4 separate regions of the Homo sapiens genome follow, and regions 1, 2 and 3 are each reported to be linked to region 4. Evidence: microRNA targets listed by miRTarBase, many of them from high-throughput screens and not tested one by one. Region 4 holds a microRNA gene; each other region holds the end of a gene's coding sequence.

Region 1 (7,117 bases), not on the chromosome of region 4:
ATCAGAAGATCCGAATGTCCCTGGTAGAACCACAGGTAAGGCCAAACTTAAAATTTCCTTGTTGTGATGGAACAAACAGTACATATTTTGTCAAAGAAGGGACGTAGTTATTTCTGTTTAATGTTAGAGGGAACCCTGTAAGTAGTGTAGAAACCAAATATTTGCATAGCAAATCCTGTTTTCTCACTGATTTCTTTAGGCCACGGGATTCTAGACATCTGAGATTCTGTTCAGGTCTTTGGTGCTAAAATAAAAAGGTCTTCCATTCTCCTGCCTAGTCTTTTCTATCTAGAAGTTTTGAACTCTGCATTTTGAAGATGAAGTGTAGGTGTTTCACCTAAGATACTGGTTCTTAACTTTTGTCCTTCCCCAACACACTTGAAATCAACTCTGATTCTGTCAATCACAGTGGCTCCCCATTGGGAAGGCTGTTTTGTAGTTAAAAAGAACACTTCCTAAATGACATGCTTCTCACCTGTTGAGACCATGTCTAGCTTTTACATTTTTGAACCACTGCTACTTTGTAAAATACCTTCTGTGTATAAAACCTTTAATTAGCCCCCTTTCCCCTCCCTACCACTACATCCTTTTAAATTTGAAGCTGGCAGTGGGGAAGGGGAGGATGAGGTTGAGATGTATTCTATCCTTTAAATCACCTTATTTCCCCCCATTTGCATTACTTTAGATACCAGGAATAAGCATTCCTACTGATACTTCAAACATGGACCTTAATGGACCAAAGAAAAAGAAGATGAAGCTTGGAAAATAGCTATATTCAACAAAAATCTTCAAAGACTGGTTTCTTTTTTAAAAGAAAAAACTTGAAAGAACACTTCTAAGCCTAAGTGTGTGATACAGTTTGTTACTTTTAAGTACATTTTAATAATTTCAGACATCTGCATTTTTATTGAACAGTTGACTGTATCTGACCCATCATACTACTATACTTCTGGGTTGAACAGAATTATTTATGCAGAATAATTCAATTGAATATCCATCACTTAAATACAGTGACAGGACAGCAACTTCAGGGATCTGTAAAGATCATTTAAATGGAGTGCTCATCTCATTGAGGAGCAGATTAATTTTGCGTAAGTACTTTGATTATTTAATATTTGTAAGAAAAAACTTTCATTTTCCTACAGAGGAAAATAGAACAATTTTAGAAGCAAGGAACAATCTCTTTTCTAAGTCTTGGAAGCTGTCAGTGTTGAGGATGTAATCTCCTTTGCCATCTTTAATTCACCTAACTTACACTAGGTGTTCTCTTACTGTCTTTAAAAGCTTCCTGTATTTTATTAGTGGTCCTTGAAAAACTGTGAATGTTTGGGAATTGGTAGAAAGGCAAAAAGTAGGATATTTTGACCTGACTGGAAAGATGGTTGTGTTTTTATTGCCAGGTAATAAGTGTGATCATTGTTGAACTTCAGCTCCAGTGTCTCTCCAGAATAAGACATTGGCATTCAAATGTCTATATCTTGTTACTTACAAAATAAAAAACAGATTAATTAGTGGCTTTTAAATTGTAGTTATATCAGTGTATATACACGAGGGGAACTGTATAAAGACATACTAAAGGGAACAGATTAAAATAAGTATTATTAATAAAATTTGGTGTGCCAGACTGACTACTTCCCTTGCTAATCACAGAGATTAGTAATGATTAAATTAATATCTTCAGGAATATTTTGGGATAGGGTTGCCTTAAAACATTTTACTTGGCTTATTCAATTTCTAAAGCACTTACGTTGTGCCAGGTTCCACTCAAGTAAATTATCTCTGCCTTCAAGGAGCTTGCAGTATAGTGAGAAAAGCCTGCCAAGTAAATCAGCAGGTATACTAAATAGGTAGTCATTTAGGCACTCAATAAATGTTGACTAATTTTTCCAGTTTCCTATTACTGAGGAAAACCTCCATACACTGAGGCAGAAACTTGTGTCAGTTGGAGGAAAATAGACTTGAGTAGTCTTTGGTCCAGGTAAAATGGGTCAGTGACACTGAAACAGTAGAGTAGGAGTCAAAAAACCTTTTCTGTGAAGTGCTAGAACATTTTAGACTTTGTTGGCTATGGTCTGTATTGCAACTATAGTACACAACTCTGCCGTTGATAGTGTGTAAGGAGCCATATACAATATGTAAACAAATCAACATGACTGTGTTTCAACAAGGCCTGATTTGTTAAGTTTCATATATAGTCATATGTCACTTAATGACAGGGATATGTTCTGAGACATGTCACTTGGCAATTTCATCATTGTGTGAAAATCATGATGTAGTTACACAAACCTAGATGGTATACCCTATGGTATCCTATATGGGATAGCCTATTGCTCCTAACCTACAAACCTGTATGGCATATTACTGTACTGATTACTGTAGGCGGTTGTAACACAGTGCTAAGTATTTGTGTATCTAAACATATCTAAACATAGAAAAGGTACAGTAAAAATATATATATAGATATATATAAGATATAAAATGGTACACCTATTTAGGACATTTACCATGAACAAGTTGGCAGGACTGGAAGCTGGCTCTGGGTGAGTCAGTAAGTGGTTAGTGAATGTGAAGGCCATGATATTACTGTGCACTACTGTAGACTTTTATAAACACTATATACTTAGGCTACATAAAGTAATTTCACTATGATGTTACCATGGCTGTGTCCCCAGGCAATAGGAATTTTTCAGCTCCATTGTAATCTTACGGGATCATCATCGTATATTTGGCCATTGTTGACCAAAAGTTATGCAGCACATCATTATAATTTTGATGTGTCACAAAACATTACTCATTTGATTTCCCCCACCCCCGCCAACCATTTAAAAAAGTTTGCCGGCTAGGTGCGGTGGCTCATGCCTGTAATCCTAGCATTTTGGGAGGACGAGGCGGGTGGATCACTCGATGTCAGGAGTTTGAGACCAGCCTGGCCAACATGGTAAAACGCCGTCTCTACTAAAAATACAAAAACTTAGCTGGGTGTAACGGCGGATGCCTGTAATCCCAGCTACTTGGGAGGCTGAGGCAGGAGAATCGCTTGAACCTGGGAGGCGGAAGTTGCAGTGAGCCGAGATTGCACCACTGCAGTTCAGCCTGGATGATGAGAGTGAGACTCCATCGCAAAAAAAAAAAAAAAAAAAGAAAAGAAAATTAGCCAGGTGTGGTGGCAAGTGCCTTTAATCCCACCTCAGGAGGCTGAGGCAGGAGAATCGCTTGAACCTGGGAGGCAGAGGTTGCAGTGAGCCAAGATCGCGCCACTGCACTCCAGCCTGGGTGACAGAACAAGACTGTCTCAAAAAAAAAAAAAGAGAAGAAAAACTGCCTACAGGCCATAGTTAACCTGCAATAGAGAAGAAAGGGAAGTAGGGCAGTGCATGACTGGCCTTAGGTTTTTTCTTTCCAAGTTTATTTTCTTGTGCTTCAGCTACTAGAAAGGTTTAATTCAGGGATAAGTCCCAATTGAGTAGTTCAAGATGATCAGAGACTTTGCTATTTTCCCCTAAGTTCTATTCCATAATCTAAAATGTTCTGTTTCTAGTGCCAGTTCTTATGCTAAGCAGGTTACGTGGAATATATCACTTAACTCAAAAAGCCCTGTTAAGCCAGGACTGTTATCTCCATTTAACAGATGAGAAAATGGAGGTTTATGGTCTGTTCTCACACTGCTACGAAGAAATACCCCAAACTGGGTAATTATTATAAAGGAAAGAGGTTTAATGGACTCAGTTCCGCATTGCTGGTGAGGCCTCAGGACACTTACACAATCATGGCAGAAAAAGGAGAAGCAGGCACCTTTTTCACAGGGCGGCAGGATGAAAATGACTGCCAGCAGTGGAAATGCCAGACGCTTATAAAACCTTCAGATCTCATGAGACCGGCTCACTATCACAGGAACAGCATGGAGGAAACCGCCCCCATGATCCAGTTACCTCCACCTGGTCCCACCCTTGACACGTGGGGATTGCTACAATTCAAGGTTAGATTTGGGTGAGGACACAGAGCCATACCATATCAGCCCAGATCAAGTAGTGACAGAGTAGGGATTTGAATACAGGTTATAGTCACTATTGTGTTATTTCTTGACTTTTGTACTATTAAAAAACTGTAGCCAGTGAGGCTTCTACCCTTAGTACCCAGAACTCCTTTTAGGTATAGCAATTGTTTTTAGGTAAATTTATATTGAGTTTAACACCTGTGTGATTAAAGACAACTTTCCAATGTAGTATCTGTAGCCATGTCCCCTAATGGCTATTAGTGTTCATGGTTAGTGTGTTGAAGATGAGCCAGGTACATAACGCGGCACATTTTCTGCAGGTCAGCAGTAAGGTTTCAAGGTACAGTTATGGAGGAAAGAAGAAAATGACACATTGATAACACAGGTCTTTATTCCCTTTTGAATGAGACAGTTTTTAAAAGTTGATTTATAAATACAAAAATACATTCTCCAAAGATAGTATTTCCAAACTGTTATATACCCATCTACTCCCAACATGGATATAAGTTTTTTAAAAAAATAGTTGTATATAACATACATATCTGCCCCAGTGTTACTTCACAGGCCTATGCCCTACGGGAACTCCACTCTCCCAGCCCCACTTTTTCTCTTGGTTCTCCCACATTCTTATTCTCCCACATCCCTACCCACGTTTGAGCTGGAAAGGATGTCCCTACCCTAGGCATGAGGTATATTTTATTCTGGGCACCACACATTTGCCCCATAGATAACAATACACGTGATGATGTCACTAGTACTACCTTTCTAGTATTTACATACTTAAAAGTAGTAACTAGAACAGTTATCACTGGAACTAAGAATTTTCCCCACAGAGGTGAACAGACCAAGAACTAAAATTTCAGGAAACCTGTTTAATTTCTTTTGTATCTTTGAAAAGTTAGTTTTATATCTAAGATTTCTTCACATAGGTTATAATTCATCTGTATGTTCAAGCTTTTATGTAAAAATATATAGTGCCTTCAGTTTTAACATAGTTTCACATGTTCTCAGAACTGCTAAATTCAGTGCTACCAGTAAGGCTTAATAAGTAGTTCATTGACCCTGTAAGATAGGAGCACTCAGCTCTGTCACAATTTGTTGTTAAACACATCACTCAATGTAAGTATAAAAATATTTATTGATAAAAAATAAACTTATAATTCAGCAACTTGAAGTTCCAGGAGCATTTCTGTTGTTCCTATGTCAGTAAGCCCTTGATTTTTCACATTAAGGAGGGAAAGCTAAGCATGTTACTTGAAGTAATTTTTTCCCAGTCACCATCATGTTGATCCTGTGCACAACGATATATGCGAGGAACTCTTAAGCTTAGTCTTTGATTCTGACAGAGGCATTCTATGGACTGCTGCATTGAAAAGGGCTTGCTGTTTTCATCCAACACCTCTGTGTTGTGTGGTCTTGCTGTGAAAAAGAAGACAATACCTTGTTTTCAGTTTAAGTAGGACCACTGGAGGATGCAATTATCGGGACTGTTTTTAAAACCTAAAAGCACGTTTCTTTAGCTGAACTCTGAAGGGACAGTAAAGATACAGTATTTTATAAATCAATATTCTGCATCAAAAAGCATCCCAACACTTTGAGAGGCCAAGGTGGGAGGATCGCACGAGCCCAGGAGTTTGGGACTAGCCCTGGCAACATAGTGAGACCCTGTCTCTACCAAAAATTTTAAAAAGCTGGGTGTGGTGGCACATGCCTGTAGCCCTAGCTACTCAGGAGGCTGAGGTGGTAAGACTGCTTGAGTCTGGGAGGTGAAGGCTACAGTGAGCTGTGGTCGTGCCACTACACTCTAGCCTGGGTGACAGAATGAGACCTTGTCTCAAAAAAAATAAAATAATAAAATTTAAAAAAATCCTTCATTTATCTCTACTTATGTTTAGATAGACAACTGCATCCTGAAATAGGATGGATTTTGTTCAGGTTAATATTAGAAGAGACCTGCTCTGATACTACATACAACAGAAAGGCAGTTTGCTCCTACTACATACAACAGAAAGGAAAACTAAGGTGGCCTCCCTATTAAACATTTGTTGCACATTTGCTGATATTTATAGTATTTTATAAGAAACTGGCATATAACAGCAGGGCAAGGTGGTTCACACCTGTAGTTCTAGCTACTCAGGAGGGTGAGGCAGGAGGATTGCTTGAGCCCAGCAGTTAAAGGCTGTAGTGATCTGATTCTACGACTGCACTCCAGCCCGGGTGACAGAGTAAGACCCTGTCTCAAAAAAAAAAAAAAAGAAAAAAAAGAAACGGCATACAAGGCTGGGCATGTTGGCTCATGCCTGTAATCGCGCAGCACTTTGCGAGGCTGAGGCAGAAAGACTGCTTGACACCAGGAGTTTGAGACCAGCCTGGGCAACACAGCAGGCCCTGTCTCTACAAAAAAATAAAATGCAAAAAAAATTGGCACATAAAATTAAAGACTGTCCTGACTAGTGCCTGAAATTATGATGAGTTTCTTCAAGTATGAATATATAACCACCACCTGGAAGGTTCAGTAAATGCCCTCATCAAATACACGCTACCTTTGCACACTTTGTAGTATGTAAGATACTTGTGTATTCAGAGTAACCAAAATATTTAAAGGTTATTGGATGTTAAGAAAACAGGCTTACCTTTTAGTGTTTTAAATTTCATATAGTTTCTCAATAGTACTATTGTCTAATAATCAAAATTATTTTATATTTCTAATCTAAACAATATTAAGCTTTCACTATATTTTCTCCGTACCTTCATATTAAATGCTTGAGATTTACTCTCAACTTCACATGTTTGTGCATCACTTTCTTTGCAGTAACTTTCTGCCCCAACTGTATCCATAATATTGCTTCCACAATTCTGCGTATTATAGCCACTATCCATCTGACAGGAGAAAAAAGAAAAAAATATATTGTGAGGAACTTAAAAGTCAAATATTTAAATAAGTAAACCACTATAAACTCTCATTCACTACATCTGAATGATCCTAACATGTAATATTGATCATGTTGAACAAAATTCAAAAGTAATGCACAAATATAAAAGGTAGTCCTGCATAGTACTGATTATTGTAGTCATTTTACAATTCCTTCCAATGAAATATATCTTGTAACTTCCTTAAGAATC
Region 2 (7,107 bases), not on the chromosome of region 4:
TCCTGTCTTCTTCTTTAAGATAGGGTCTCACTGTATTGCCCAGGCTGGAGTGCAGTGGTGCAGTCATAGCTCACTGCACCCTCGATCTCATGGGCTCAAGCGATTTTCCTGCCTCAGCCTCCTGAGAAGCTGCATGCCACCACCGTGACTGGCTAATTTAAAAAAGAAATTTGTAGAAATTAAAACAACAACATGGTGGTGTGCACCTGTAGTCCCAGCTACTCGGGAGGCTGAGGCATGAGAATCACTTGATCCTGGGAGGCAGAGGTTGCAGTGAGCCGAGATGGTGTCACTGCACTCCAGCAACCGAGATGGTGTCATTGCACTCCAGCCTGGGCAGCAGAGACTCCATCGCAAAAAAAAAAAAAAAAGGAAATTAAAAAAAAATTTTTTTTAAACCTCAAAGATTACAGGCATAAGCCACTGCACCTGGACCTTCATGTACCTCTTTGCTCTTACATGGACTTCCTGTAGCCCTAATGCACTTCCTGTCTTCCCCTTCTACTTCCTGTCTTCCTCTTGCATTTCTGAGGACCCCTTACTAGCTGCTTCTACCTCCAACTCCAAGCACCATCTGCCCTCAGGCCTAGGGTTGTTGGCACCCACAGCCCTTCCCCTCAGCATCCTCTTTCCTGGCCTTAGCCCACACTCACCTTCTCGGTGTCCTCCTTCTTCACCTGCTTGAGGTGGGCCCGCAGGTCCAGGGACTCCTTAGCCCGGGCCCCCAGCAGCGCCTGCATCATGGCATCTGCAGAGATCCTCACTCTCCGCAGGGTGGGCCGCTTAAACTTGCCTCGAAGGTCAAAGATCTTCTGAGTCAGATCTGCAATCTGGGGGCACACGAGGGGGTGGGTACTTCTCCTTCCATTTCCCGCACACCCAACTCCTCCATCCTACACTCCTTTTTTATTCTCCTTATCTCGTCTTCCAGTACCGAGGCCTTACCAGTCTCTTCCCGGCTTAGGCTCCCAGTCTAGGCTTCTAATCCTGGAACTGAATCCCCCTCCTCATATGCTCCAGCCTCACCTCTCAAAACCACTGGCATAACCTGGTCCAGCTACATGCAAATCACAATTCCCTGGCCAGTGCCTGAGCTAATTTACCAACATGTGATGCCCTGAGCATGTTCACTAACTTATTTTCTGTTTCCCAACCCATGGCCTTGCATGTGCTGTTCCCTCTGCCTAGAACAGCTTTCCTTGACTATATTGTACTCATCCTTCTGCCCCAGCCCTGCCAGGCTCACAGTTGTCCTGGGTCTCCTGGGATGTGCAGCCAAAAGCAGCTGCAAGGGGTCAGGCAGAGACCAAGTCCCAGCCATCTCACCCTACCCCGAAGGTACCCGAGCTGCCCATGCGTCCCACCTCCGTGATGTTCTTGGTGACTTTTGCCTCTATGTCGTATCTCTCTTCATCCACCTTGTCCACACGGGCGTGGAGCTGTCGGCACAAGTCCTGGAGGAGGAACGTGGTGTGTGTTGTTGGGGGAACCAAAAACAGGGAGACCTGGACTCCTGGGTCTGAGGGAGAAGGGGCTCGGGGCCTGGACTCCTGGGTCTGAGGGAGGAGAAGGGGCTGGGGGCCTGGACTCCTGGGTCTGAGGGAGGAGTTGGGGGCCTGGACTCCTGGGTTTGAGGGAGGAGAAGGGGCTGGGGGCCTGGACTCCTGGGTCTGAGGGAGGAGGGGCTGAGGGCCTCGATTCCAGGGTCTGAGGGAGGAGGGGCTGGGGACTGGACTCCTGGGTCTGAGGGAGGAGGGGCTGGGGACTGGACTCCTGGGTCTGAGGGAGGAGGGGCTGGGGCCTGGACTTCAGGGTCTGAGGGAGGAGGGGCTGGGGACTGGACTCCTGGGTCTGAGGGAGGAGGGGCTGGGGCCTGGACTCCAGGGTCTGAGGGAGGAGGGGCTGGGGCCTGGACTCCAGGGTCTGAGGGAGGAGGAGCTGGGGCCTGGACTCCAGGGTCTGAGGGAGGAGGGGCTGGGGCCTGGACTCCAGGGTCTGAGGGAGGAGAGGCTGGGGCCTGGACTCCAGGGTCTCAGGGAGGAGAGGCTGGGGCCTGGACTCCAGGGTCTGAGGGAGGAGGGGCTGGGGCCTGGACTCCAGGGTCTGAGGGAGGAGGGGCTGGGGACTGGACTCCTGGGTCTGAGGGAGGAGGGGCTGGGGCCTGGACTTCAGGGTCTGAGGGAGGAGGGGCTGGGGCCTGGACTTCAGGGTCTGAGGGAGGAGGGGCTGGGGCCTGGACTTCAGGGTCTGAGGGAGGAGGGGCTGAGGGCCTCGATTCCAGGGTCTGAGGGAGGAGGGGCTGGGGACTGGACTCCTGGGTCTGAGGGAGGAGGGGCTGGGGCCTGGACTCCAGGGTCTGAGGGAGGAGGGGCTGGGGGCCTGGACTCCAGGGTCTGAGGGAGGAGGGGCTGGGGCCTGGACTCCAGGGTCTGAGGGAGGAGGGGCTGGGGCCTGGACTCCAGGGTCTGAGGGAGGAGGGGCTGGGGCCTGGACTTCAGGGTCTCAGGGAGGAGGGGCTGGGGACTGGACTCCTGGGTCTGAGGGAGGAGGGGCTGGGGCCTGGACTCCAGGGTCTGAGGGAGGAGGGGCTGGGGCTTGGGCTTCTGTCTGGGATAGGAGGGCCACATGGTCCTGAAGGAGTAGGTTGGAGCCAAGACTCCACAGACCTGCACACAAAGGGTGTTAGGGGCCAGGAGTCCCACGAACCATATATAATTGGGTAAGGACAGCCATATTGGACGCCTGGGTCCCGAGCAGAAGAGGGGATAGAGGCTGTACTGCTGAATTCCGGGACTAGAAACCTCGCATCCTTGGGAGCCGGTACCTGCAGCTCCGCGAAGCCCAGCCCGGCCAACTCCAGCGGCTGGCAGCGGGTGCTCAGAGCGCGCCCCTTCTCTCCGCGCCGCTCCTCCGCCTCTCGCTCCAGCTCTTGCTTTGCAATCTGCAGCAGCAGAGTCTGCAGAGGGGTGGGAGGGAAGCGCAGCCCACCCGGGGCTTCAGGATAAAGACCAGGCGTGGGGAACCGCCTCTGCCCTTCTAAACCCTCCAGTTTGGTCTCCACTGTTCCAAGGCCCCGTCCCACCCCGAGCAGTACTCCCCGCTAAAGCCACGCCCCGAGCGGCCAAACCCCGCCCACTTCCGCCCACCTACCCCGAAAGCCCCACCCATTCTCAAGCTCCGCCCCCTGAGCACCTGCCTGCTCTTTCCCAGTCCCGCCCGTCCTCACCTTCAGCTGCAATTTTCTCGAGGCGGAGATCTTAGATTTTTTCTGCCAGGGTGAGATGGAGCAAGGAAGGATCATGGAGGGGGATTCGGAGACGACGGTGGAGGGGACCTCAAGACACCCCCAGCAAACCCAGCCGGTCCAGATTTGGGCCCACGTCCAACTTGAGCCCTGAGTCTACGGGAGGCCACGCCCCTCATTCCCATCCACCAATCTGGGTCTCTTCCTTTGGATAGGCACTTCCCATCTATCCCTAAGCAAGTCCGAGGGCAACGGAGTTCCGCCCGCAGGCTGCTGTCACCAATCCGAGCATGACCCTCTGCAAAACTCCGCCCCTGAAGCCCCTCCGCGTAGTCCCCGCCCCCTTCGCAGCCCTGGCTCCTCCCCCCACTCCCAGGGTCTTGGATCCCTCCGGCGCCTGTACTCTGCCCCCAGGAAGCCCCGTCCCACCTTGGCGTGCGGCTCCGTGGCATAAGCGCGGTAGTTGGAGGAGCGGCGTCTGATTGGGGCTGGTGCAGGGCGAGGTTCCCTAGCCTGGGTTAGGAGGAGTGGGGACCCCATCACCACCAAGACCCCACCCAGCCCTTACCGTACCGCACCCTCTGCTAGGGCTGCAGCCTCCCGCCCCAGACCCCTCACTGCAGCGCCCACCCTGGCCCTGGGGGTCCCAGCCACGCCTTAGCCCGCTGCTCTCACCGCATCGCTGCTCCTGGAAGGAGAGAAACCAAGGAGGGGGGTTAGTGGTGGGCTGTGTCCTGTCTCCTAAGGGACCCCTGGAGTCCCCTCTGAACAAGAGGTCGGGGGACCGCGCTTCCCCTTCCTTGGGTTCCAGGAGTCTGACTCGCAAACCCACTTCCTCTCTTCACCCAAGAGTCCCTACGCCTACCTCGCAGGCCAAGGGTCCAGCCTCTCAGCTGCGACCCCTCTTGGGAACCCGGGAGGTCGCCCCCAACTCCCACTGCCTTGGGGCATCACTCACCCATCCGCCATGCTGAGACTCAGGCCGGGAATGGCAGGAGGCAGGGCGAGGACAGGGGCGTTTGGAGGGTCAGTGAGGGGGCCGCCCGGGTGACCTTCAGGGTCCCAGGGACCGTCAGTCTCCTCCGGGCTGCTTGAGACTCCCCGAGGACACTGAGATAAAGGGCGAGGACACAGACTAAATATACTGTCACCTCCTCCTCCCCCTGCCCACTATGCCAGATAACGGGGGCGCGTGAGGGGCGGGGTGGGCCCTGCTCCAGCTGGATCACCAGCCACCTCCGGGCACAGGAATCCGGACCCTCCTCCCTCTGATCCTGGAGTCCTAGACCCCTCCTCCCTCAGACCCAGAGAATGCCCGACCTCCCAACCTCCTCCTCCCTCAGTCCCAGGACCCTGGGAGACCCTGGCCACTCCCTCACACAAGGAGTCCAGGCCCCCAGCCCCCTTTTCCCTCAGACTCAAGTGTCTGGGCCCCCAGCTCCTCTTCCCTCAGACCCAAGAGTCCAGGCCCCCAGCCCCTCCTCCCTCAGACCCAAGAGTCCAGGCCCCCAGCTCCTCTTCCCTCAGACCCAAGAGTCCAGGCCCCAGCCCCTCCTCCCTCAGACCCAAGAGTCCAGGCCCCAGCCCCTCCTCCCTCAGACCCAGGAGTCCAGGCCCCCAGCCCCTCCTCCCTCAGACCCAGGGGTCCAGGCCCCCAGCCCCTCCCTCAGACAAGGGAGTCCAGGCAGGCCCCCAGCACACTTCCTCTCTCAGACTCAAGAGTCTGCACCCTCAGCTCCTCCTCCCTCAGACCAGGAGTCCAGGACCCCAATCCCTCTCCCCTCAGACCGAGGAGTCCAGGACCCCAATCCCTCTCCCCTCAGACCCAGGAGTCCAGGCCACTCAATAAATGTTGTTGATTAATTTGAGGATGCAGCTGTGCTCGGGGCTAGCTCTCAGTCAATAGCACTGGGAAATCCATCCCTCGTCCACTTGGAAACCCAGGAATCTGGTTTCTGGCTTCCTCTGTCCAGCACTCCTGGGCCTTTCTCTCCCAGCCCTGGAGACGGACATAGGACAGGAAAGACGCTTGGACACACAGAAGGGTGGACACAACTTGCTTTACTTGAACCATCTGGGTGCTGACCAGGCCCTGGTGAGGAGACACCCCAGCCCCTAGTCAGCCACAGGGTGCCTGGGAACAAGGGGGCCAAAGTCAAGGGCCTGAGACTCAGTGTCAGATCCTAGGCTGGGCTTAGAGCCTCAGAAGTGGAATTTGGAATTCTGAGAGAACAATCTAGAATTCTAGGAATAGACCATAGAATCTCAGAAATGGAATTTGAAAGTCTACCAACACTCCCGGGGTGGGGGTGGCGGGTACTGAGTGGGAATGATTAGAATAAAATTGAGGACTCTAGCAGCGGACTTAGAATGGTATCAGCGGGTTCTCATCCTACAACCTGACTTTGGAAGTTGGAGATAAGGGGTGTCTAGGGGTTGGGTCAGACTCCAGTTTTGGAGTCTGACTCACAGTTGGGCGGAGCCAAGGCCCCCTGAGGCTGAGCCAGAACCTCTGAGAGTGAACCTGGAGACTCAGAGGGCAGCTGGCAGGGCTCACAGTGTGGGGTCCCACCCTGCAGAGGCTGGGTCAGGCCCTCAAGGGCTGGGTTGCTGGCTTCAAGAGGCTGGGCCAGGATGTCAAGGGGCGGAGTTCCGGGTTCCACAGCTGGGACAGTGTTGCCCAGAGCTGATTCCTGGGACTTGCAGAAACGTGCGAAGGTCTCTGAAGGCCTGGCCCCGGTCTGTGGAGCAAATCCAGCTGCCTGAGCTAGCTCCCTGACCCGGGTGTTGAATCCCTGCAGCTGCTCCTGCCGCACGTCCACCAGGTACCTGCAGATGGGAAGCGCCCTGTCAGGGACCCAGATTTTGATCCCCAGCCAGGATGTTCCCCACCCTCCACCCCACTGACTCACCGGGCTAATTCCACAATCAAGTTCCCTCCGGGTGCCACACAGGCCCCAAGCTCAGGGATGAGAAGATGGACCATACTGCAGAGAGGACGGAGGACAGGCTGAGATTCAGCTCCAAATCCGGAGGGAGGATGGGGCTCTGGGATCCCAGACAATGAGGGAGGAGGGGTGGCAAAACTGGAGTCTGGGTCCTGGGGAAAGAAGGGAGCAGGAGGTCTGGACTCCTGGGTCTGAGGGAGGAGGGGCTGGGGGCCTGGACCCCTGGGTCTAAGCAAGGAGGGGCTGGGGGCCTGGACTCCTGGGTCTGAGGGAGGAGGGGCTGGGGGCCTGATCCTGGGTCTTTGTGAGCACAGCTGCCTCCCCGCTTACCCACAGGCCACATAGAGGAGCTGGAATCGGCCGTTGTAGCAGCTCTTGTGGTGGAGAGTCTGAGCAGAATTGAGCGGCAGGAAGTGGACGGTGAAAGATTCCGGGGTCGGGGCTGCTGGGGGAAGGGGATAGAGGGGTCACCTCTGACAGGCGGAGCCATAAGGGCGGAAAACCAGAGAGATACACAGAGCTGGGCAGAGCTGGGCAGGCACACAGGACTTGGAGATAACACTTTTTGTCCTCTTGCAGCTTTTTAAAAAATCCTCTAAGGTAGGCTCCTGGAAAGTTCTGGGAAGGTCAGCCTGGCAGGCAGAGACTCACTGTACAGATCAGGCAACTGAGACTCTAGAGAGGGAAAGAGGGTGGGTGGCCAGGGCCACATGTGACATGCCCTGTCAGACAGACACGCAGGGAGGGCCAGGTTGGAGGATGGCTGGAAGGAGGCCCAGCCAGGATCCAGGGTGTGGGAGGCTGTCCAAGGGGGAGCTGGGACCCAGCACCCTGTGAGAATATTCTTGGATAGCTTAGCCCTCTGCAGATAAGATTAGAATTCTGCTAGTGGAATTCAGAATTCTAAGCATGCTC
Region 3 (7,117 bases), not on the chromosome of region 4:
GTCCAGGAAGGCACATGGAGTCTCTGGAGTCAGACATCCTGAGTTCCAACCCTGGTGCCACCACTGAGCAAATGTCTGTTTCTGAGCCTTACTTTCCTCTCCTGTAAAACAGGAATAATTATGTTTATTTTATTATTTTATTTTATTTTATTTTAAGACAGAGTCTCACTCTGTCACCAGGCTGGAGTGCAGTGGCGCGATCTCGGATCACTGCAACCTCCACCTCCCCGGTTCAAGCAATTCTCCTGCCTCAACCTCCCGAGTAGCTGGGATTACAGGTGTGTGCCACTATGCCCAGCTAATTTTTGTATTTTTAGTAGTGGCGGGGTTTCACCATGTTGGCTAGGATGGTCTCGATCTCCTGACCTCATGATCCGCCCGCCTCGGCCTCCCAAAGTGCTGGGATTACTGGTGTGAGCCACCGCACCTGGTCTATGTTTATTTTATAAGGCTGCCATGAAGATTAAACAAAGTGGCATAGATAGAGCCACAAGCTTATGCAGGTGCTTAGTAAATGGTATCTGGTTTTTTTTTGGAACCTCTGGGAAGTGCAGCTGGGGTGTGGGGAAGGGACCCTAACTGATAGGGCCTGGGTGGCGGTGTGGCCTAGGGAAGGCCTTTCAAGACAGGGTTCCAGTGCCCTTGAGCGTGCATTTAACAAGGTTGGAGAGGGAGTCCTAGGCTGAAGGTACAGCATGAGCAAAGGCAGAGGGGCAGGAAAGAGCTTGATGAATTGGTGAATTTAAGTCATGGGATGTGTCTGGAACTGGGGTGCAGTGGCCAGGTTGCAGAGGGCCTTGCAAGCTACCACTGAGGCTGATTTTACCCAGGGGTACGTGGGGCACTAGAGAAGGGCTTATGCAGAGAATGATGTGATCAGATTTGCATTTCAGAAAGATTTTATTCTGGCTGCCCTGCGGAATCTGGACAGGAGTGGGTAGAAATGGGCACAGAGAGGGTACGGTGGCTCACACCTGTAACCCCAGCACTCTGGGAGGCCAAAGTGGGAGGATTGCTTGAGTCCAGGAGTTCAAGACCAGCCTGGGCTTCATAACAAAACCCTATCTCTACAAAAAATAAAAAATTAGCTAAACATGGTGGTGCACACCTGTAGTCCCTGCTACTCAGGAGGTGAGGTGGAAGGATCACCCGAGCCCAGGAGGTCGAGGCTACAGTGATGATTGTACCACTGCACTCCAGCCTGGGCAACAGAGTGACACCCTGTCTCAAAAAAAAAAGAAAAAGAAAAAGAAACGGAGCCTGCAAGTGACAGACCCAGGATCTAAAACGAGGTCAGGCTGCCTTTTTCCGCCACTCCAGGTGGCCCCACGAACAGCCTGGGCCTGGTGAACTTGGCTTCAACCGGCCTGGAAAGTAACCTTCCAATGAGCCCATGCTAAGGGCCACCCCAGTTCACGCTCCTGGTGGACAGGGGTGCGGCTGGCCCAACACTGCCCCCTGGTGGTTAAAAGCAGAAGTCCCCTGAGCATCGCTCAGTTTGGGCCGGGCCTCCTCCCTACCCGCACACCAAGTGTGCGGTCTGGTAGATGGACACAGATTCACGGCTTACCTCTCCCGCTTTGTGTTGTGTGATGTGATAATTCACTTCCTGCCCTGAGCCTCACTTTCCTCATCTGTAGGCTGCGGATGGTGCTTCCTGCCTCAGCTTGGGCCTGGCTCACAGTCGGTATTTGGGCATGGAGCTGGCACCATCACTTCCCACCGAGATGCACAAACGTCTGAGCAGCTTTCTCCCAATCCTGGGCCTTCCCTCCACCCCAGGAACCCAGCACCTCACTTTGTCCCACTGTGTGGCCCCCTGCCCCACACTGGCCTTCCCTGCAGGGGCCCACACGCCATCAACCCTCGTCTCCCCTACTGCAGGCTGGGGGCACCAGCGGCAGCTGACCTGGGTACTGGTTCACTGGACACAGAGGCTTTGGCCAAGGCACTGCCCCCTGCTGAGCTTCGGTTTCCTGGCCTGTAAAATGGGGCTATAATCTCTGTCTGCTTCAGGACTTAATGTGAAGCGGCTGTGCAAACTGTGGAGTGCTGTGCCATGAAGCTCTGGTGAAGACCTACTCTGAGCACCTGCCTAGACTTTCTTACAGTGGTGTCCTCCCTAGCTTGGGCTCCTTGGGCAGTGAGGTGGGCTGGGGCAGGTGAGCCTCTCCAACAGCCATTGAAACACCCGCAACCCTGGGGCCTGGGGTGGTGGCTCACGCCTGTAATTCCAACACTTTGGGAGGCCAAGGTGGGAGGACCACTTCAGGCCAGGAGTTCGAGACCAGTCTGGGCAACATAGTGAGACCCCATTTCCAAAAAAAAAAAATTAGCCAGGTGCAGTGGTGCACACCTGTGGTCCCAGCTACTCAGGATGCTGAGGCAAAAGGATGGTTTTTGCCGGAGTTCAAGGCTGCAGTGATCTATGACTGGGCCACTGCACTCCAGCCTGAGAAACAGAGTAAGACCCTATCTCAAAAAAAAAAAAAAAAAAAAAGGAAAACACGCCCATGGGTCCTTGACCTGCTGCCCTCCTCACCTGCTTCTCCCCAAAGACTGTGGGGACTTCCAGGGAGGAGATGGGCTAGGGAGAGCAGGTCCCACCTCCATTATCTGGACAGGTGAGGCCTGGGTATTTCCAATTGCCTCATTTTGAGCAAGAGTTTTGATCTGTGGCCTCCTGCCAAGATTTTGCCATTCTTTCCTGACAAACTACACGGCTGTTTTGTAACCGGCATTATAAAATGGTTTTATTAATTATTAATAACTATTTAATGTGTACACAGTTATCCATGAAGAAATAGGAAATACCAGTGAGTTGTTACCAGCGTTGCCCCAGGCTGGGAGAGCCCTTCCAGCTTTCCTTTGGCCTCTGACACCCCTGCCCCACTGACCGCCCACCCCCCATTCCTGTCTGGAAGGCTCGCCTGCCATCATCCCGCACATCCGACAGCTCTCCCTTCAGGGTCACCTCCTCCTTGGACAAAGCATACGTGACCCCTTGTCAGGTTTCTTGGCTGGGTGCTCCCCCAGAGTTTGGCTCCTGCCCCCAACCAAGCATGCATGGTGACAATGCACCCACTTGATAACTGATCACTGGTGTCACTTCCACCTCCCTCCCTCCATGAGCGCAAACCTCCGGTTAATACAGTTGGGTCAGCCCAGGGTCCTCGGTGTCCCCAGAGTCTGCCATGCCTGGTGCTGGGCAGATACTCAATAAACACCCAAAATCAGGCCGGGCTCAGTGGCTCACACCTGTGACCTCAGCACTTTGGGAAGCTGAGGCAGGGAGGATGGCTTGAGCCTAGAAGTTCAAGACCAGCCTGGGCAACATAGCAAGACCCCTGTCTCTACTTTTTTTTCTTTTTTTTTTTGAGACGGAATCTCGCTCTGTCGCCCAGGCTGGAGTGCAGTGGCGTGATCTCGCCTCACTGCAAGCTCCGCCTCCAGATTCACGTCATTCTCCTGCCTCAGCCCCTCGAGTAGCTGGGACTACAGGTGCCCGCCATCACGCCCAGCTAATTTTTTGTATTTTTAGTAGAGACAGGGTTTCACCGTGTTAGCCAGGATGGTCTCCATCTCCTGATCTCGTGATCTGCCCGCCTCGGCCTCCCAAAGTGCTGGGATTACAGGCGTGAGCCACCGCGCCCGGCCTGTCTCTACTTTTAAAAAATTAAATTAAATTAAATTAATATCAATGAGTGAATAAATGAAGAAACAAACTTTGGGCAAGCCACTGCCCCTCTCTGGGTGACTTTTTTTTTTCAGTTTTGTAAAAAAGTGACAGTGTTAAAAATTAGACATGGAGGCCAGGCATGGTGGCTCATACCTGTAATCCCAGCACTTTGGGAGGCTGAGCCAGGCAGATCACTTGAGGTCAGGGGTTTGAGATCAGCCTGGCCAACATGGTGAAACCCCATCTCTACTAAAAATACAAAAATCAGCCAGGTGTGGTGGTGCATGTCTGTAGTCCCAGCTACTCGGGAGGCTGAGGTGGGAGAATCGCTTGAACCTGGGAGGTGAATGTTGTAGTGAGCTGAGATCGCGCCACTGTACTCCAGTCTAGGCAACAGAGACTCTATCTCAGAAAAGAAAAGAAAAAAAATAATTGGAAATGGGTTGCTGAGGACATGTGCCCCTGCTCCCTGCTGAGCTCCCAGTGTGCCCCTCCCCTCCTGAATTGGTAGGAGATTCTGCTCTCACCTCTGCAGGCGATCACTGCTCACTGCAATTCAGTCACTAGTGCCTGCACCTGACCCCATTTTTGTTTGCCACCCCCGCAGCCAGCCCGTATTTGTGATCACGGCCCTGTGATCAGAGTCTCAGGAAACACTTGTGCATGGGGCAGAGCAATCCTTGCTGCCTGCAAGGAAACCAGACAAGGCTGTGCTGATGGAAAATCGGCTGTAGTTACATGGGCAAGAATCAGAGTTCAAGTCTAGGAACCCCTGGTTTTTAGGCAGAGGACATCAAGGCAGAGGATGTCAAAGCTGAAGTGAGGCATTACAATCCCCCATCATGACAACCGGTGGGCCTTGTGAAATTTAGCACAGGTCCTCCCGGCTCCAGTTGGCCACAGCCTGCCATGGAAGCCCAAGTGCCTCTGGGCACTCCAAATATCACTGCATCTGGGAAAGCAGCAGACAGCGTGGCCATGCAGTGCAACAGGGTAGTGGGGATGCCTGTCACATCTCCGATGCAGAGGCAGCCCCTGGACATGGGGATGTCCTGTGACTCTTGCCCGACAGCCCAGGCCATCTCCTTGGAGCCAGCGCAGCCATTTTTTTTTTTTTTTTTTTTTTTGCCAATCTGCTCAAACACCCAGTTGGAACAGGAATGCCTCGTGGCACTGGCTTTAGGAGTTTAATCTAGATGGTTTGCTGTTTCTAGCAGCAGAGCACCTGTTCAGACTCTACGTATATGCACCCATGAATGGTGCAGCTGCCAAGAGAACCAAAGCTAAATGTTGGCAGGATCACAGCAGGTGTGGAGGGGAGGTCACTGGGAATTCCCTGGAGACTCAGTCGTTACCCACTCAACTGGAAGGCTGAGCATGGCTTTTTCCTCTGATGGTTACCCATGCCAGGCCCCACCTCTCCATGTCCAATGTTCTTTCTTTATTTGTTTGTTTGTTTGTTTGTTTGTTTAGAGACGGAGTCTGGCTCTGTTGCCCAGGCTGGAGTGCAGTGGCACGATCTCAGCTCACTACAACCTCCGCCTCCTGGGTACAAGCGATTCTCCTGCCTCAGCCTCCTGAGTAGCTGGGATTACAGGTGCACGCCACCATGCCCGGCTAATTTTTGTATTTTTAGTAGAGACAGGGTTTCACCATGTTGCCCAGGCTGGTCCCGAACTCCTGATCTCAGGTGATCTGCCCAACTCAGCCTCCCAAACTGCTGGGATTATAGGCGTGAGCCACCACGCCCAGTCCATTTCCAATTTTCCATCCAGTGGTGGCAGAACAAACTTGGATGGGCCCCAGTGCTCTGCTGGAACCAGGACCCTCACCCAGCTGCCTCCAGCTGGGCCTGCCCACCCCTGCTGACCTCCTACATGCAGAGAACAGGGCTTCTCTGCTCTTCAGGCCTGAAGCTGTGATGTCCACAGGACCTAGGAACCACGCACACCCCCTGAAGCTGGAACACCAGGCATGGGTGAGTCCTGGGTGGCTGGATCTTGTCAAGATGGGTGAAAGGGCAGCTTCTGCAAGCAGGACCCATCCTCAGTGGACTGGATCATCTTCAGCGTTCTCATTCTCAGCCGCATTCTCTGGGAACAGGGAAAGAGGTTCCTGTCTGAATCTTCAGCATGGGCTATGCACTGGTGGCCCCTTCCTGCTTGGCCACTGTGCCAGGTGAGCCTACAATGAGATGAAATGGTGACGTGGGACAAGTGGCTCTCTGCAGCCACCTCCAGCACCACCCTGCCTGGGAAGGCAGGGGTCAGAGGGGTGGGTGTGAAGGGGTTGGAGTGCACAGGTAGAGGTGGCTGGGGTCTTCACTGTGTTGGGGAGGGTCTCATCGCCTTGAGACTCTGCAGCGTCTCCTCAGAGGCCTTGTCGGGAAGCAGCACCTCCACAGTGTAGCTGAGCTTCTTGGCATGCATCCGGCTGTAGGTGTTGTCGAAGCGCAGGACATCTGCAGTGATGGAGAGGTGATCAGGGAGCACAAACCCCGCACATCTGCAGGAAGAGCCAGCCCTGCATGGGTGCATCCCTGGAACCCTTGGGAATGAGCTGCATCCCTGGAACGTCCTGCATCCCTGGAACCCTTGGAAATGAGCTGTCCAGGACAGTGGGTGGGGCCTGAGGGCCAGCCTGTGCCCAGCCCTAAGCCCATTGCTCGCTGCCATCTCCATGGTGGCTTGCGCTACATGAAGGAATCATGATGGTCATCAGCATATAGAACAGCACACAGCCAGGGAGCAGGCGGCCTGGGAACGGGATCTCGAGCTCCACCTGCAGGGAGGAGCTGTGGCCCACGGACACAGTATGCTCGTACTGCGTCCTCGCCTAGTTGCGGTTGCACAGGTAGCTCTTGGGCCTCTCCATGAACCATGGATTCCATCACACATTATAGCCCCTGAATCCTCAAAGCAGCCCCATGTGGAAGGCAATGTCATCCTCATTTTACAGAGGAGAAAACTGAGGCTTGGAGAGGTGATATGATCTTTCAGCGGTCACAGAGCAAGGGAGGGGAGGTACTGGGATTCCTTTATCCAGATGTCCCAACCCAGGGAGGAGCCCTGCTACCCCAGGAGGAATGGGCTGGGCTACATAAGCCGCTTTCCGTCTCACAGAAGGCATGTCCTTCAATGCCAAGGTCCAACATGAACTCAGGTGTGATGAGTCGTGCAGACTTGTCTGTCTCTACTCTCCTAATGCTCCCTTTCCACAAAATGAAATAAGGTAATGTGTTGACTTAAGCATAAGCCACACCCTTCTCCTCCATAGGAAATCAACCTTGGGTTCCCCTTCTCCTAGCTCTGTTCCCAATAGATGTGGAAGGGCAGTGGTGTCCCTGAGCAATGCTACTTCTGGTAAAGCTGACTGAGCTGCATCTGGCCTGGAAGGCCTGGGGGTGAATGATAAGCACCTGGAGGAAGTCACCTCTTT
Region 4 (7,114 bases):
GACAATGTTACGGAAAAAAAACAAGAAATCAATATCCCATAACAAAAAGCCCCCAAGCACAACTGTTGATTTCCTTTGATATACTTACCTTGCATTGTCACTGGAAATACTGTTAAGAGAAACCTTTTTATTTTTTAAACCAGAAAACAAACTAAAGCTCATGTGACCAGATTTTAATTTTGAGAAATAAACTCCAAAAGCATTTTAAGCCATAACTTATTTCAAATGAATAGGAAAAATAATGACTTTTGCTTACATCATGCAGCAATAAGCATTCATTTGTTATTCAGAAGAAAATTGTATGCAGTGTGTTTATAGTTAACATCTTGAGGCAAATGTTCACTTAAATTCACAATGTCTCCATTGGCCTTTCACCAAAAGAGAAATATACTTTAAAAGCTTACTTCAATTTGCTCATTAAGTATGATTTAGCCTTTTCTACCATATTATATTTGGTAACTACATTTGGAAGAATATCACACAAAGCTTCTTAAAACATTGGTAAACATTTTGAGATGTCTTTATCAAGCAACCGTATCAGCAGAGAAAAGATAAACTCTTAAGACTTTCTTTTTTGCCCCAAATTATGTGTCAGAAAGGAAAATATATCCCACTTCTCTCCTTGTAGACATCACAAGATTCTTTTGCATTAAATGTGGAGCAAAAAAGTAAAGCTGGATAAAAGAGACACAATGATTCTAAGGCACCCTTAGCATAGGGAATTTCAAAATAGACATTTACAGTTGGCTGCTTACAACATAGTTTAACTTTTTTTGGTGAGAATCACTCTGACATCTGTTAACAGCATAAAAAGGCTGACTTTCTTTTCCATAAGTATGTTGTTTCCAACTAGTTTCCAGTCTTTCTTCCATGCCCAAAGTTCAGGCAAGCCTAGGTAATCCTGTCTTAGCCAATGGACAGGATGTATTTGGAAATGACAAAAATGGGTTTAAATTAGGAAGCAAAGTACTTTGTTATAGCTGAAATGGTTTTAAATGAAGCAAATGGTTGTAAATAATGAATGACAGAACATCTATTTTGGGACATTATGGCTTAAAATGCTATTTACTTTTAACTTCACAAATAAACACAGCTGTATTGTTTTGAAAAGCAATGAAAGGCATGCACCTCTACTAGCAGATTTAGCACTTCTGACCAAGTAAGACACCAACTTCTTTAAAAATATGCTTCATGCACTGTACTGGATTTTTTTAAGATGTAAATTTTAATACATTATTTCTTTTTTGAACTTGAACGGGAACCAGAATGGGATGATCCAGATGATGACCTGTGGCGTCTGTAAGACATAATGGAGAGAGTAGGCATTCTAGTAAGCTAGAGCTAAATCTCAGCATTCATTCTTAAGACTGTGAAAGTATACAAAATTCAGTACCATGATGCTAGCAAAAAAATTAAAAATTGAGATAGGAACTTACACACATAAAATTATCTGATGTTTAGACTTTGGATATGAGCCCAGTTATCATATAAATACAATAAAAAATTCTCTACAATTTCAAAAGAATCTCATTTCAAAATATAGCCACCTCTCAATTATTTAAGATATCAAAGAAAAGCCTTGCAAAAATGTGTAAAATTACAGAAAATGTACAACAAAAGCATATAAACTTGGTAATGGAAGTGTGACTAAACCAATCCCTGTGACACGGTGTAGAAAGTGTAAGAAGTCTATTATGTAAAAAAGATACAGCAAGGCTTCTGTGTATGAGAAAATATACTCATAAATAAGTTTTGGAAATCTAGGTCACACAAGATGATTGTACAATTTGCTATAGGGTTATATTCATGCAGCTAGTATGAATAAGTCAATATCAACCTGGGTAAAGTAGTGGTGTTCCGTAGGGGTTGGCCCTGGGCTCAGGGTTGTTTAGTGTTTTCACCAATCACCTGGCTTATGGAATAGAGAACATGTTCATTAAGTTTAGATGACAACAAACTAGGGGGATTATATGTGGCTAAGATAAAAATTTGCAGAAGTGGTAAGAAAGCAACAGAATGAATTCCACTCAAAAACAGAGTAATTTTTTTTACAAAGAAACAAATGCAGAGAAACAAGACTGTGTGAAATCTTAACATCTAAACTCCAAAATGTGAAGAAGCAAAACTAATCATTCTGTACAAGTAGGAATCATGAGATAATCCTACCACTGAACCCAGCAATTAATAGACTTTACATAATCTTTATTTTCACAAGCTAATAAAATATGAAAAATTTGCAAAGACTACAAATAAAGCCATTAAAATGACTATATAATTGGGAACAAAGAGAAAATTAATGAAACTGAGTAATTAGCCTGTTGCAGAAAAGGCTGACAGATGACAGTTGCATTCTTCCAATATTAAAAGTGTCAGTACAGATAAAGTAACCTAATATAGGCCTTTCTCAAAAAAGATTTGGACTGCAAAATGAAAAATGTATTAGCTACAAGGAATAATTTCCTTATAGACAAAGGGCATGAAGCAATTTGCTGTGGAAATGCATTTACACATATTTAAATGAGGACAGATTCCCAATGATCTGAAAGTTAATTTTTTATTAGATGCTCTAGAATTCTTGACTATTAGTATTTAAAGAAGCCTAAGTATAAAAGTCAACTCATAAATTACTTCGACATACAGCTTCTGAATTGCAATCTCAAAAGACAGAAATAACCGAGAGTTGGCTATAAAAATTATAAATGGAACTAAAAATTTAAACAATAAAATGATCAAAGAATGGTTTGATCTACAATTCTAAACAACCTGATCAAAGTACAAAGGATAAGCAAAGTAATGTTTTTTTGAAGTTCAAAGTTGAAAAGTAGAAAGTCGGAACACAAGAGATAATAAAAATCTAACCCTTGACTAGGAAAGTTTACTTTATCTATTAAACACACTTAAGAACACCCATTCTTATTTCTACAGAAACCCAAACCTTTCGGGTGACCGTGATCTTGTTCGTCTTTTTTTGCGATCACCAGATGAAGAAGATCTAGAACGACTTCTCTTTCTGTTCCTCTCAGGAGAAGATGATGAACTTGAATAAGATCTTTTTCGTGGGGAAGAAGAGCCCCTGTGGGACCTGGAGCTGGATCTTCATTGATTGAGAAACAAATCAAACATTTCATTAAAAGAAGAAATAAGGAAGATTATTTAGTTATCAGATAGCTCCAAAAATAAACAGGATTTATAACAACTATGAAAATTTTATAAGGAAGAATACTTACTGCTTATTCAACAGAAGACTTCTGGATCAACCATGAAAACATTCTACTTAAACATTTTAATTTTGTCTCTTTAAAATTCTATCATGTGTAATTAAAACCCTGCTTACTATATCAAAATAGAATTTAAACTTTTTTTAAGGCTTTTCAAAGTATACACAAATATTATAGTATTATAAAATCAGCAGATAACTGCATTAACAGGACTTTACGTTTAGGAACTACATCCTTCCATTTGAGGATTAAAATATGTATCTTATATACCACTTCCTGAGGAAAATAAACATAATTCCATGTGGAATTATTCAACTCATTAAACTGTTATGGAAAAACCAGGTATATGGCACAGCAACAAAAGACTAGTAACTGTACTTAACTGCTAAATATTCAAGAAGAAATAAAAACTAACTTTAAGATGATTTATATTTACAATACTATTTTTATGAAAACCCACTACTTATGAAATATGAAGTGTTGACATTCACATGCTTCAGGTAGAAGTAAATGTGCAAATGTTTAAATACAAATTTTTTTTCTTCACTTGTATATTTTGGTTGAAGGAATTTAGCTCAAACTTCCCAAAAAATTCACCTTTGGGCTTAAAATAAAACCAGAAAGCCCAAAAGGAGAATTCTTTGGAAAGTTACAAGCAATGAAAAAATGTTTGGGAAGAATATGATGGGTGTTCTGTAAACCTTAATTATAATGGTTCCCAAAGGGAATACCAGAACTTAAGGATTTTTACCTATAAAGCGCTTAAATATTGTTACTAAATAATGGTAACAATAAAAAATAATTTGCTCTCTACTTCTATTTTTTTTTTTTTTTTTGAGACAGGATCTTGCTCTGTTCCCCAGGCTGTGGTGCAGTAGCATAAGCATGGCTCACTGCACCCTTAATCTCCAGGGCTCCAGTGATCCTTCCACCTCAGCCTATAAGAACACACCACCATGCCTGGCTGGTTGTTTTAATTTTTATTTTTAGTAGACGAGGTCTCACTATATTGCCCAGGCTGGTCTTGAACTCCTGGGCTCAAGCAGCCCGCCCACCTTGGCCTCCCAAGGTATTGGGATTACAGGCGTGAGCCACTGAGCCTGGCCTTGTTATCTATTTCTTATTGGCTTATAATGCAAGTGTGCACAACATTCTTTTCTCCTTAACATGATTATACTGTGGCAGCCCTTTAATGCTAAATTTGATTCAAAGCAGCAAATACTTTTACCAAAACAGCCACAGTTAGACTTCAATATGAATTTCCACAAATATGGAATTTCATTTTCTTATTTATTTTTTAGATGCCTTTAGGTCATAATAAATTAACTTAAAAACAAAGAGAGCATATTTTGACTAAACAAAGAAAAATTTCCTGCAAGAGCATCTTTCAAATTATGTTTCCCTCTACAGATGTGACTACATGCAACCTGAAACTTTAGAACACTGTTTACTACTTAAGACCACATCCTATCTCAACTAACCGACTATACTTCCTGATTTAGTTTTGAGTGTTTTGTGCTCTATAAATAATAGCGTGTGTAAAATTAGAAAGGAAAATGTATATACAGTACTCTAGTAACTTTATCTGATATAAATGGCAAATTTGTTTCTGAAAATATTGAAACAACTGCCGTGCAAAACAGGACCTGTTTTGAGGCAGGGTTATTTTTCTTCCTTTTAATAATGAAGAAAATTTTTCTTTTTATTTACATATGTAATTTTATTTGAACTACTATTAATTTTTTTTTTTTTTGAGACACTCCTCTGTCACCCAGGCTGGATTACAGTGCTGTGATCAAGGTTCACTACAACCTTGAACTCCTGGCCTCAAGTGATCCTCCCACCTCAGCTTCCCAAAGTGCTGGGATTATAGGCATGAATCACTGTGCCTGGCCATATATAATCTTAATATACTAGAGATGTGGCGATAAGACTTGGCTTCATCTTCCTACTTCATAACATCTTAGTGCCAAAATAATAAACGCTGCATATTGCAAAATAGCCACCTGATTTCAATCATGGGAATGTCTTGGCACACTGCTGGCAATGGAAACATTTCATGGTGAGAAAATTAAGCTGAGGCAAGTGCATTAGTTTTCTAATGCTAAAATAAAATCGACAAGTAGAAGCAAAATAAGGGGAAAAAAAGCAGCAACACCTTCTGCAGCCTTTAAATATTTTTCTCTCTGCTTTACAGAGAGATGCTACCTCATTCACCTTGATTTCGACCCACGAGATCTCGAACGTTCTCTGGAACTGGAACGAGATCTTGACTGCGAACTGGAAGAACTTCTTGAACGGGACCTGGAACAACATGGAACGATTTTTTTTTTCCAGGACCATTTAATTGAGCTTTGTGATATGAACACTGAAAGAAAGATATGTATTAGAGTTCATTTTCATATAAAAAGATAACTATACAAGATATATACTTTCAAAACATAGTATTTTAAATTAGATAAGATTTAGTAACAAAAGGTAATTAAAAAAATATCACTTTCCAGGTGATTAAATTACCCTAAAGCCACTCAACTATAAAACAAAACATTATCACTTTATTACAAAAACAATGAATACTTTGTTTACAAGTAACTAGAAGCTACCCAGAATACATCCAAGAAAACAGAATGTTGCGATTTATACTTAATTTCTCTAAAATGTCTCCATCATTTTCCTTTATAAATCCCCTTCTATTTTTGTTTCTAGTTAGTACAAAGTTTTGAATGTTGGCATGTGTGTATTTCATCCCTATATTTTTCTGTTTACTCAATGCTTAGAGAATTAAAGGGAAAATGTATAATTCTGTCATTGTTAGGTAATTATATTATTGGAAAATATGACACAAGGGAGACATGGTTCGTACAAATTTTAAAACTCACAAAATTCATTAATCTAATTTACAACTATAATTTGTCCCTTATAATAATACCCTGTAGAAAAAGATCACTATATTTTTACCAAAAAATTACTAGTTATAGCCCCACTTTGTTAAGCTTTCAGGCTTTGTAGTGCTCAATTAACATATATCTAATTGTTATACACTAATATCTAGTATTTTATTCCTAAATATGATTAAAATTCATTGCCCATGCCATCACTTAACTGTGATTAAGGTTTTTCAAGAGGACACTGTTAAATTTAAATCACTGCTTTCACTCACCTAAAATTTTATTTTTATTGTTAACTATAAAATCAGAGATTACATATTTTACATCAACAAACAATATTCAAGTACACCAAAAGAGTTTTAGTTTACGCCTGGACTTCTCAAAATTATGAGCATGAAGTCAACAGAACTAATATGGCTGAATTTGCTCCGTTATTCACAATACTGATATCAAAGCAAACTATTAAAAACATTATGTAATAAGCAATGATTTAATGCCTAGAAAATTTCTGTGCTAGCCTTTAACATCTTGAATGAAAATACAGATCTCCCCTTTACTTAATTTCTATATGTAAGCTATCTCTTTAGATTAATTAAATATAAGTGTATATAAAAATTTAATTCAGTTTTTAAGTCTATTTTAGTCAAAAGCATGAGGCTAAAATAGGTTAAGGAAGTTTCATGCTAAGACTTTACTTTTCTAAAAATACTGGACAACAACTGTATGGTACTAAGCTGAAAAATTATTTTAAAAGTTGATTTGAATTAAATTTTTAAAATAAAAAGGAAAGTTTATTTCGTCAAGAAAAACAAAATTTATAAATAAAAAAGTTAGATACTGACATTTTGACTGGTGTTACCCTTGACCTGTACCCGTTTACCTGGACCTAGACCTTGAACTTGAGGGGGAGGATGAGCGTGATGAAGATCGTGAATGTGAAGATCGAGACTTTGAGCGACTTCGTCTATTAGATTTCTTTTTATTACTATCTTCTTCTTCACTGGCATC

The links. Region 4 holds the annotated microRNA hsa-miR-186-3p (GCCCAAAGGUGAAUUUUUUGGG, at 3,802-3,823, opposite strand). A microRNA usually pairs through its seed, bases 2 to 8, with sites in the 3' UTR of a target mRNA and lowers its output. Matches are read on the target gene's strand: a 7mer-m8 pairs with bases 2 to 8, a 7mer-A1 pairs with bases 2 to 7 and ends in A, and an 8mer does both.
Region 1: miRTarBase lists DIS3 as a target of hsa-miR-186-3p. Seed matches in the 3' UTR shown: 7mer-A1 at 1,326-1,332, 7mer-A1 at 1,688-1,694, 7mer-A1 at 2,875-2,881 and 7mer-A1 at 5,628-5,634.
Region 2: the mRNA of DNAAF3 is a reported target of hsa-miR-186-3p. The part of its 3' UTR that is shown has no 7-base or 8-base seed match.
Region 3: the mRNA of SEC14L4 is a reported target of hsa-miR-186-3p. Seed matches in the 3' UTR shown: 7mer-A1 at 5,390-5,396.

Annotation. Positions count from the first base shown.
Region 1 is chr13:72,753,447-72,760,563 of GRCh38, reverse strand. DIS3 (DIS3 exosome endoribonuclease and 3''-5'' exoribonuclease) reads left to right here. Exons shown (of 21, transcript NM_014953.5): 20 at 1-35; 21 at 686-7,117. The coding sequence ends at 769. It overlaps BORA (BORA aurora kinase A activator), which reads right to left. Exons shown (of 12, transcript NM_024808.5): 11 at 6,743-6,874; 12 at 4,368-5,413. The coding sequence ends at 5,348. Among named protein-coding and RNA genes, the nearest start is that of DIS3, 25 kb to the left of the region's middle.
Region 2 is chr19:55,153,377-55,160,483 of GRCh38, forward strand. It overlaps DNAAF3 (dynein axonemal assembly factor 3), which reads right to left. Exons shown (of 12, transcript NM_001256715.2): 10 at 6,523-6,637; 11 at 6,157-6,231; 12 at 5,289-6,073. The coding sequence ends at 5,686. It overlaps TNNI3 (troponin I3, cardiac type), which reads right to left and starts at 4,356. Exons shown (of 8, transcript NM_000363.5): 1 at 4,203-4,356; 2 at 3,920-3,932; 3 at 3,674-3,757; 4 at 3,227-3,268; 5 at 2,825-2,956; 6 at 1,365-1,454; 7 at 654-830. The coding sequence starts at 4,213. DNAAF3-AS1 (DNAAF3 antisense RNA 1) reads left to right here and starts at 5,933. Exons shown (of 4, transcript XR_007067345.1): 1 at 5,933-6,069. RefSeq lists an enhancer at 3,547-4,134.
Region 3 is chr22:30,484,107-30,491,223 of GRCh38, forward strand. SEC14L4 (SEC14 like lipid binding 4) reads right to left here. Exons shown (of 12, transcript NM_174977.4): 12 at 4,796-6,140. The coding sequence ends at 6,001. LOC107985579 (a long non-coding RNA gene) reads left to right here. Exons shown (of 3, transcript XR_001755490.2): 3 at 1,641-2,278. Among named protein-coding and RNA genes, the nearest start is that of SEC14L3, 16 kb to the left of the region's middle.
Region 4 is chr1:71,063,841-71,070,954 of GRCh38, forward strand. MIR186 (microRNA 186) reads right to left here and starts at 3,876; the gene lies at 3,791-3,876. ZRANB2 (zinc finger RANBP2-type containing 2) reads right to left here. Exons shown (of 10, transcript NM_203350.3): 7 at 6,987-7,114; 8 at 5,436-5,522; 9 at 2,936-3,094; 10 at 1-1,297. The coding sequence ends at 1,234. ZRANB2-AS1 (ZRANB2 antisense RNA 1) reads left to right here. Exons shown (of 3, transcript NR_038420.1): 3 at 2,926-3,344. RefSeq lists a silencer at 4,663-4,712.